Regions from separate parts of the Homo sapiens genome. Here region 2 is linked to region 1. Evidence: fine-mapped expression QTL. A gene starts in region 1. The other region holds a variant in brackets. All regions are shown on one strand. Distances are from middle to middle.

What was found. PIP is the estimated chance that this variant, and not a neighbour inherited with it, causes the effect. A credible set is the group of variants that fine-mapping cannot tell apart.
Region 2: its variant is the best candidate, but not a certain one, in a credible set for the expression of E2F7 in monocytes (Quach 2016, PIP 0.87).

Annotation. Positions count from the first base shown.
Region 1 is chr12:77,063,706-77,068,100 of GRCh38, forward strand. E2F7 (E2F transcription factor 7) reads right to left here and starts at 1,864. Exons shown (of 13, transcript NM_203394.3): 1 at 1,640-1,864; 2 at 838-930. The coding sequence starts at 930. RefSeq lists silencers at 1,704-1,753, 1,774-2,203 and enhancers at 1,812-2,518, 2,254-2,483.
Region 2 is chr12:77,029,842-77,034,236 of GRCh38, forward strand. It overlaps E2F7 (E2F transcription factor 7), which reads right to left. Exons shown (of 13, transcript NM_203394.3): 8 at 4,016-4,201; 9 at 3,209-3,281; 10 at 1-491. Among named protein-coding and RNA genes, the nearest start is that of E2F7, 34 kb to the right of the region's middle. RefSeq lists an enhancer at 2,211-3,410. The variant C/T (reference allele first, on the strand shown) is at 2,121.

The DNA of each region.
Region 1 (4,395 bases):
AGCAATTATCAAGTATTCTTCAAAGGCTCATATGAGCCTGGGTTGCTTTGCAACCAAGGAGTTTCACTGTTGATGCTAAGCCTAAAAATAAGACCAGGAGCTCGGAGAAGTTCAATGCCCAAGTTGCTACTCACAGATTTATATTCAAAGTTTCTAAAACTTGGTTTGTTATTTCTATTTGCCTGTGCCTAAAAATGCTCAGATAGTTTAGACATTGTTATGGCCAGTTTACTTTGTAATGTTCTTGAAAACAACATCTTGGTCTTACAAATCACAAGGGGTGCAAAATGTAAGGGAATGGCTCAGTGCAAAACTAGCAACAGTATGGTAAAATATTCAGAATATACTGATGAGTTCAGCCACTTTATCTCCCTATATAGTAGGCACAGGTCTACTCTTGGGTGAATGGAACAGTCTCTGGGAGCTAGTTCATTGGTATGAAGACATTTCACAGCACTTTAATAATCCAGCATTTATGCCTGCAAAGGTCTATTTTCCTGGGAACTGAGGCTTAGCATTCCTACAGAGCACTAGCTACACCACCCTTGACAACTGTATTATAAACTTTGATTGCTGTAGCCAGCATATTTTTGACTTATATAAATTGGTTACAACATTACATGTAACCTTGCCTATTTTTCCCACTATATCTGAGAGTAGAATTCCAACAATAATGGTTTGGATGGCTCTATTTTTAAAAAAGAATGTTTCTATAATGTTTATCAATATTAATTATTATGCTTAAATACAAATACAAATGGCATGTTGGAACACTTAATTGAATTCAACATCACCATCCTTAACATATTAGAAACTAAGGTGTTTATGTTTGCTTACCTTTTGTGCATTTTCCCCATCTTCAACTGCAAAATCTAGTCTGGGCTGCCTGGGGCTGATCAGGTCTTTTAGTGTTAAACAATTTACCTCCATCTGTAATGCACAATTACACTAGAAAATGATTTTGCAATTAGGTATTTTTTCCTCAAACAAAAATATCTACATATGTGTTACTTGTTTGTCAATATGAAATTCCCCCTTCTCTAAGCACATCCTGGGCATTTCCAGGAGTTGTAGCCACCCTCAACTTTCTAAAACTCACGCGAACAAACTCAAACACCTAAAGTGTGCTTAGTAATACTGAAAATCTGGGAAGAAAAAAATCTACAAAAATAGTAACTCCTTATGAAAAGCTAGATGGCAAAATAAAGTTACCAAGTCGGAAGGGTGTTGGGCAAATCTGTCAGAAAAGTACAGGGTCTCCCAGGTCAGTTAATTTTGGCGCAAAGAACTGAGAGGAATTCGGCTTTGAGGGGTTTTGAATCGGGGGAAGGAAACCCGATCGCTAGACCAAACCCACTCAGCGCTGAGCGCAGCCCCTTCCCAGGCCTCCAAGCAGATCCCCCAAATAAACTTCTCCAATGAAAGCTCCAAGTTGTGGGGAAGGGCAAATCCCCTCTACTGCCGGGCCGGAGTGAGAGCTGCACCCGGCACACCCTCTGCGCACCGGGTTCCCCGGCAGAAACACCTCGAGCCCTCGCCAGCCGGGGGACGTGAGGAGTGGCAGGCTGGCAGCCGGGGCGGGAGTGGGCCCTGTATCCCAATTCCCGCCTCCCCACTGGCGCTGGGGCCGCACGCTTACCCCTGCTTTCCTAAGGAGGCTTCCTGCCTCTGCAGGGACCTCCACGGACCCAAGCCGATGAGGGAAGGTGGTGCGGCGATCAGCAGCCGGGCGGCGGCATCGGGAAGGGAGAGCGAGGCGCGCAGATCCCCGCGCCGAGTGCCCTGGGCTGGCGGGGACCCCGCGGCGTCCGGGCAGCGCCAGCGCTCAGACCGGCCGAGCGCAACTCCAGCCTGGATCGTAGTCCCCGCTAAAACACCTCCTCTGGCGCCTTGAGACCGAATTTGAGAATCCACCAATCAGCGGCGGCCGGCGGGGCGGCCCCGGCCAATCGTGCGGCGGCACGGCCCGGGCTCACCGCCCCTCGGAGTCTTGGCGCTCCGAGCCGCGCGTTTTGCCCTCACCCGCCCAATTGTTGCCGCCTCGGCCCCCTCCCCCTTCCGGGTACCTGGAAACCTCGGGCCCGGGAGCCAATTCCTGCTGGGGACGCGGGCCCCGGCGGCCGCGGGAAGCCAAGGTGGGGGCGGCGCGGGGCGGCGCGGGGCGGCGGGAGAAGGAAGAGGAGGAGGAGGGCTCTTTTGTTATGCATAGAAGACCCGCGCACGTCCCCGCGGCTTGCCGCGCCCGGGGACCCCGGGCACAGCCAGAGGACAGGAAAGCAGATGGGGTTTGGAAGAACGATCTACACCCTCTGGATGCTGCTGCCGCCATCCCCGCCCGCCCTCAGCAACCTGTGCGGAAGCGGAGTTGTCCAGACTTGCCGGGGCAAACTTCTTAACATCGCACGCTGGTGTGACACATGAACCATGGTTACCGCTCTGCTGCGAGCAGATGGCACGCCAGTTAGCCCTGGAGACAAGACTGGAAGCCAAACCAGAAGTTTTTCTAACTTTTTTTTGTTTGTTTGTTTTGTGTGTGTGGCAAATCCGGAAATGTTTTTTGGTGTTCCCTTTTCGGCAAATTGCAAATAATTAGGAGGGAAAAAGCTTTATATAAAAAAGTAGTTCTTTGCAATAGGGACTAGCATTCTGGGAGACAGTCTAGAAAATTTCCTCAACACCACTGATCTGTATTAAATGTTTCACTTCTTTCATCCTACAGTTTCTTGTTTAAAATATGAATGTTGGTAGAGATGGACTTTTTACAAAACAGACTTTATTGTTTAGAAGTTTTCAATTTACAGAAAAATTGAGATAGTACCAAGAATTCCCATATATTCAGCACCCAATTTCACCCACTATTAACATTTTGTGTTAGTATAGAATATTTTTTGAAATTAATGATCTAATATTGGTACATTCTTCTGAGCTCAAGTCATTACTTTATTCAGATTTACTTAATTTTTTCCTAATGGCCCTTTTTTCTGTTCAGGATACCACATTACCTTTAGTTCCTATGTCTCTAGGCTCCTCTTGGCTATGACAGTTTCTCATACTTTCCTCATTTTTGATACCTGGACATTTTTGAGTAGTATTGGTCAAGTATTTTGTAAGATATCCCTCAACTGAAATGTGAGACAGCCTTCTTAAAGCATCAGACATTCTTAAATGTACAGACATGTCCCTACCCCCCATCTACTTTACAGCAAAGGTATCATTTTCCTTTCTATACCAAGACTCCATTCTTCACCACTTACCCTCCAAATATTTTTATTTTATTTTATTTTTGGAGACGGAGTCTTGCACTGTCACCCAGGCTAGAGTGTAGTGGCCCAATCTCGGCTCACTGAAACCTCCACCTCCTGGGTTCAAGCGATTCTCTGCCCCAGCCTCCCGAGTAGCTGGGACTACAGCCGTGCGCCACCACGCCCAGCTAATTTTTGTATTTTTAGTAGAGATGGGGTTTTGCTGTGTTGGCCAGGTTGGTCTCGAACTCCTAACCTCAGGTGATCTGCCTGCCTGCCTTGGCCTCCCAAAGTGCTGGGATTACAGGTGTGAGACACCGTGCCCGGCCTCAAATACATATATTTTAAATGAACTCTCAGCAGAATTCAGAATGCTCAATCAAGTCCTTCACTTCGTACTCTAGATTGCTGGTAAATACGGCCTAAAAAAAAAAAAATCACTGCTAGGTCATACATTGAAAAGAGAAAAGTATGCAAAACATTAAACAAAAGAAAATAGTAATAAAAATCTGACATTTTTTATAGGAATAACATTTTGAACTGAAATCTCTTTTGTAGGTAGAAACCTAATGAGAAGTTTAAACAATAAAAAATTGCAACTTATTAAATTTTGCACATATGTGGAAGCAGAAGTTTAGATAAGGAAATACTTTTCCCAACAGTATTCATTTTCTATGGCTGTTGTAACAAATTACAACTGGCTTATAAGGACAGAGATTTAGTCTCTCACAGTTCTGGAAAGTTAAGGTATTCCCAGGGCCACACTCCCTCTGGGGCTCTTGTCCTTTTCCTCTTCCAGTTTCTGGTGGCTGTTAACAGTCCTTGACACGTGGCAGCCTCACTCCAATTTCTACCTCCATAGTTACGTTGCTTTCTCTTTTGTCTGTTAAGTCTCTCCTGTGTGTCTCCTATGAGGACACCTGTCAATGAATTTAGGTCCCACCTGGATAGTCCAGGATGATCTCATCTTGAGATCTTCAATTTAATTGCATCTGGGAAGATCCTCTTTCCAGAGTAACATTCCTTCATGGGTTCTGGGGATTAGGACATGGATACACCTTTTTGGGGCCCACCATTCAGCCTTCTAGACCAACATTCAAATTATTAAAGTCCATTCATTTCTCTGATATTTCAAAATACTAATGATCGTTTC
Region 2 (4,395 bases), 34 kb before region 1:
CAAGCGACAGCGGGCCGTCTTCATATTCCCTACTTTGCCTTTTAGTGGCTGGCTCATCCTCCTCCTGAGGTTTCCTCTCCTCACAGAGGCGCTTCTGAGCTGAGGGTGCAGATGACAGCTCTACTGTGGCTGGGGCTTCTGAGCTTCTGTCATCCCTCTCTGACCCTGACCCTGACGCTGGTCCCTCCTGCAGACTTCCATACAGCATGAACAGTGAGGCAGAGGGCACATACACTAGAGGCTGGCCAGCAAGGAGTGCTGGCTTCAGGCTCTCCACAGCAGAGGCTGCAGAAGCAAGTGAGACATCCACTTGTCCATTCAGACCGTTCTGCATGGAGAATGCCTGCAGGTCCGTCTGAGCAACAGAAAATACTGGGTGGGCTAAAGGATTAACACAATATTCTGGGTCAACAGAGAGGACAGGGAAAGGAGCAACAGGGTCCAAGCTGCTTGATGGAGGCACCACTCTCTTACTGGCAAAGGCTTTTCCCCTATAATAAAAAAGAAACGTAACGAAGTTAGCACATTCTACCAACTCCTGACCCTTTACTTTCCCAAAGACAGCCATGCCAAATCAAGAATGAGATAATACTCCTCAGGCAGATACGAAAGCGCACTTGCTGAGCACGTGTTAGCTCATCCCAGAGTTAGACGCCCAGGTATGGCCTGGATAAATGGTTAGGATGGGGTGGGAGAGCCGAAGTGGGAAGAGCCATTGGAATCTCAGGTGAGAGTGAACATTCATTCCTCCTTCATCTCTTCCACATCTGATAGTTATCAATTATCAAGCACTTACACCCTTGCCAGGCATGTACATACTATTATAATTAGCATTAATAGTATAACAATTTTATGCAATTATTATAATAATAGCTACTCTCATTTCCCCAGTTTACTAGCGAGGAAGACTGAAGCGCAGAGGTTGATCACCCTGCCTCGGGTGAGCCAGCTCTGAAGTGAGAAGCTGGGCCCCATGCCCACATCTGTTTGATGGCAAAACCCATGTTCTCAGTGACTGTGAGAGACGCTGGGAGAGTAACAGAGACTGGACTTTGATTTAAAAAAAGATTAATCTCATTTGTCTCATTTCACAAATCCAGTATGAAAGAAATGAAGTGGACAGTGAGGAAACAAACTTATCTTCTAAATTATTATTTTCTGTCATTCTTGTCCCATTCTGCTCGGTGTTATTAACAAAATTTTAGGCAGCACACAATCAAAATTAAGTCCCATAAATGTACAAGTTTATAGGCCAGCAGGGTGGCTCATGCCTCCTGTGGGGGGCCTAGGAGGATTGCTCGAGCCCAGGAGTTTGAGGCTGCAGTGAGCTACGATCACGCCACTGCACTCCAGCCTGGGTGACCCTGTCTCTAAAATAAGAAAATGAAATAAATAAGATATAAACAATGTTTGGGCCTTTTGTTTGGAAAAATTTCCAAATATTTAAAACCATGTTTATGTTCTTAGTATATTTTTAGGAATAGAGAAGAACGATCCTTTAAGAAATAGGAACAGAGGGCCAGGCGTGGTGGCTCACGCCTGTAATCCCAGCACTTTGGGAGGCTAAGACAGGTGGATAACCTGAAGTCAGGAGTTCAAGACCAGCCTGGCTAACATGGCGAAACCCCGTGTCTACTAAAAATACAAAAATTAGCTGGGCATGGTGGCACACGCCTGTAATCGCAGCTACTCTGGAGGCTGAGGCACAAGAATCGCTTGAACCCGGGAGGCGGAGGTTGCAGTGAGCTGAGATCATGCCACTGCACCCCAGCCTGCGCAACAGAGTGAGACTCTGTCTCCAAAAAGAAAAAGCAAAAAGCAGAAAACAAAACAAAACAAAATAAAAACACACAACAAAAAAAACAGTAAACAGAGGACCAGGATTTCTTTCCGTCTTTCTGATGGAATCATGGAAGACCTGTTTTGCCTACCATCTCACTGCCTACTGCGCTGCTGAGAATAAAATGCAGTACCCTGGGCCGCAGAGATGAGTCATCTCTCCAATCAGCTGCCTCTGGTTGAGTAATGGGTATTGCTCAGCTCTGTGAAACTGAACATGCCCACCCTGGGTATATCACCCACCATCCCTCCACCCAGCCATCCACCTTCAACTTCTCCAT[C/T]TCCACCAATGACATCACTATCACCTGACATGCAGACATTCTTTCTGATGCCTGTCTCCTTTAGCGAGCCCTGCCAACTCACTGTCTCACACTGGTTTCCCTTTCTTTCCACCTCTGGTGAGCACAGCTCAGCTCTGCCCTACAGCAGACCAGAACGACTACAAATGCTCTGTTCTGTGGCCTGTCTTTCTCTACTCCTAATCCCACCTGCAAAAAGTAGCCAGGATGATCTTCATCAGTGAACCTCCAATAGCTCTTTATGGTTTCCCTGATGAATCCAACTCTTCTCTGGCTTTCAAAGCTTTTTGCCAACTTGACCTACTTGCCTCCAACACCTAACCTCTTTTGCTGAATGATTTTTCCTTTTCCTGTCCTGTTTGGACAAACCATGACAGCAAAACGAGCCAGGCTTTGGTATCTTCTGCTCCCTGGCCCTGCCTTGTAATCTGCTTCTTCCCACATCTGTTGTTAAACACTTTTCTAATTACTCTGTTTAGCGTTTCTTCTGCTTTCTCTGGTGACACATGATTTCTTTCAAAATTGGGCCCCAAATTTAAGTCAGACAGCCTGGGTATGAATCCCAGCTTTGTCACCTATTAGCAATGTGACTGGGCAAGTTACATAACCTTTTTGCACTTCAGCTTCCTCTCTGTAAAATGAGGGTAATACCTCTCTGTAAAACCTCAAAGGATTGCTCTTATGATCAGATGAGTCAATATACACTAAGGCTCCTGGAACGGTACCTGGTAGTTAGTGGCAAAACCAACTATGATAATGATGAAGTGATTCATGGAACTCTGATACTTCATTTCTCAGGGTCATGTTAATTATGAATTGTCTCTTTTCCGTGTTGGTCTTTTTATCTTGTTCCTATAAGCCATCATAGCTTACAGGATACATTTTTCATACTTTTGTATCCCTGATGCTACTTCCTGCACAGTGTAGGGCACAAAGAGAAAACTTACCAATTCCTAACAAATAAACGGCTGACCTAAATTTTTTCTTTTGATGGGTGGCACTGCAATTTAGTCAAAGTTAACACTAGGAGATAGAAAAGAATACACTCTGAGCTTTTATAGACTACTTACTGTGAATTGTCTTCTATTTTCTGTCTATAGACAGCTGCCAGGCTTCCAATTTCTAAAGAGTAGCCACCTGATCCTGAAAAGGAAGATGAAGGCTTAACAAATATAGCAAGAGACTTATACATACCAACTATATACTGAGAATTATCTAGCTGAGAATTCATTATTCTCAGCTCAAAGATTACTCAAATCTGTTATGGTTTTGATTCAAAGAGAAATTTTCAGTAGCTAGCTGTTCATGAATTCAGGTCTCATTAAGAATTCAAAATAAGCCTGGGCAACACAGGGAGACCCCGTCTCTACAAAAAACGAAAAATTAGCCAGGCATGGTGATGCACGCCTGTGGTCCCAGCTACTTGGGAGGCTGAGGTGGGAGGACTCTTTAAGTCTGAGAGGTCAAGGCTGCAGTGAGCCGTGATCATGCCACTGTACTCCAGCCTGGGTGACAGAGTGACCTTTCTCTCAAAAGAAAAAGAAAAAGAAAAAAGAAGTATTTAAAACAAGCATTGCTTTAAGTCTAATGAATTTCTGAGATACATCAAATAGGGTCAACTATGCCAAACCAATTGGTCTACAAGGTGACTAGGATCAATTTTAGGCAAGGGGTCATGTTCATAGACTGTGATATCAGCATCTCCTTTGCTTCCAATAATTGTTTCACTTCAGCTAAGTAAAAAGTAGACCACTGGAAAAAACAGCCAGGGCTGAGAGTCAGTTTGTTTTAAAACGCCAGCACGTGGGTGCTGCACTGGCATGGGCTACAGCTACATGGCAACTGATGGACTCCATAGATTATGCAAGGGCAGATACCTTGTTCTTCTCTGTACGGGCTGCTCGGTTCTGAGTTCACTTTCCTCTGGATCCTCTCAGAAGCCTGAACTGTGTTAAAAGAACCATGGCGAGCCAGCTTCTGTTTTGCACAGACTTGAATCTGGCCATATGTTTCTCTTTTCAATTCTGGTAAGACAGATGCAGAAACATCCACCAGTTCTTCATCTACATAAACGAGAGAATTGGTAGTGTTGTTATACAGCTGTAATTCAGGATAATTTTCGTCTATTTAAGAGATGGCTTTGAACCTATAATTGTAATGGAGCTATCACCCTATAAATCAAAAACTAAGACAATCAAAGGAATTTTATGAGCCTTGTCTCAAACCCCAATTTCTTTCAATGTACTTTTTTTTTTAA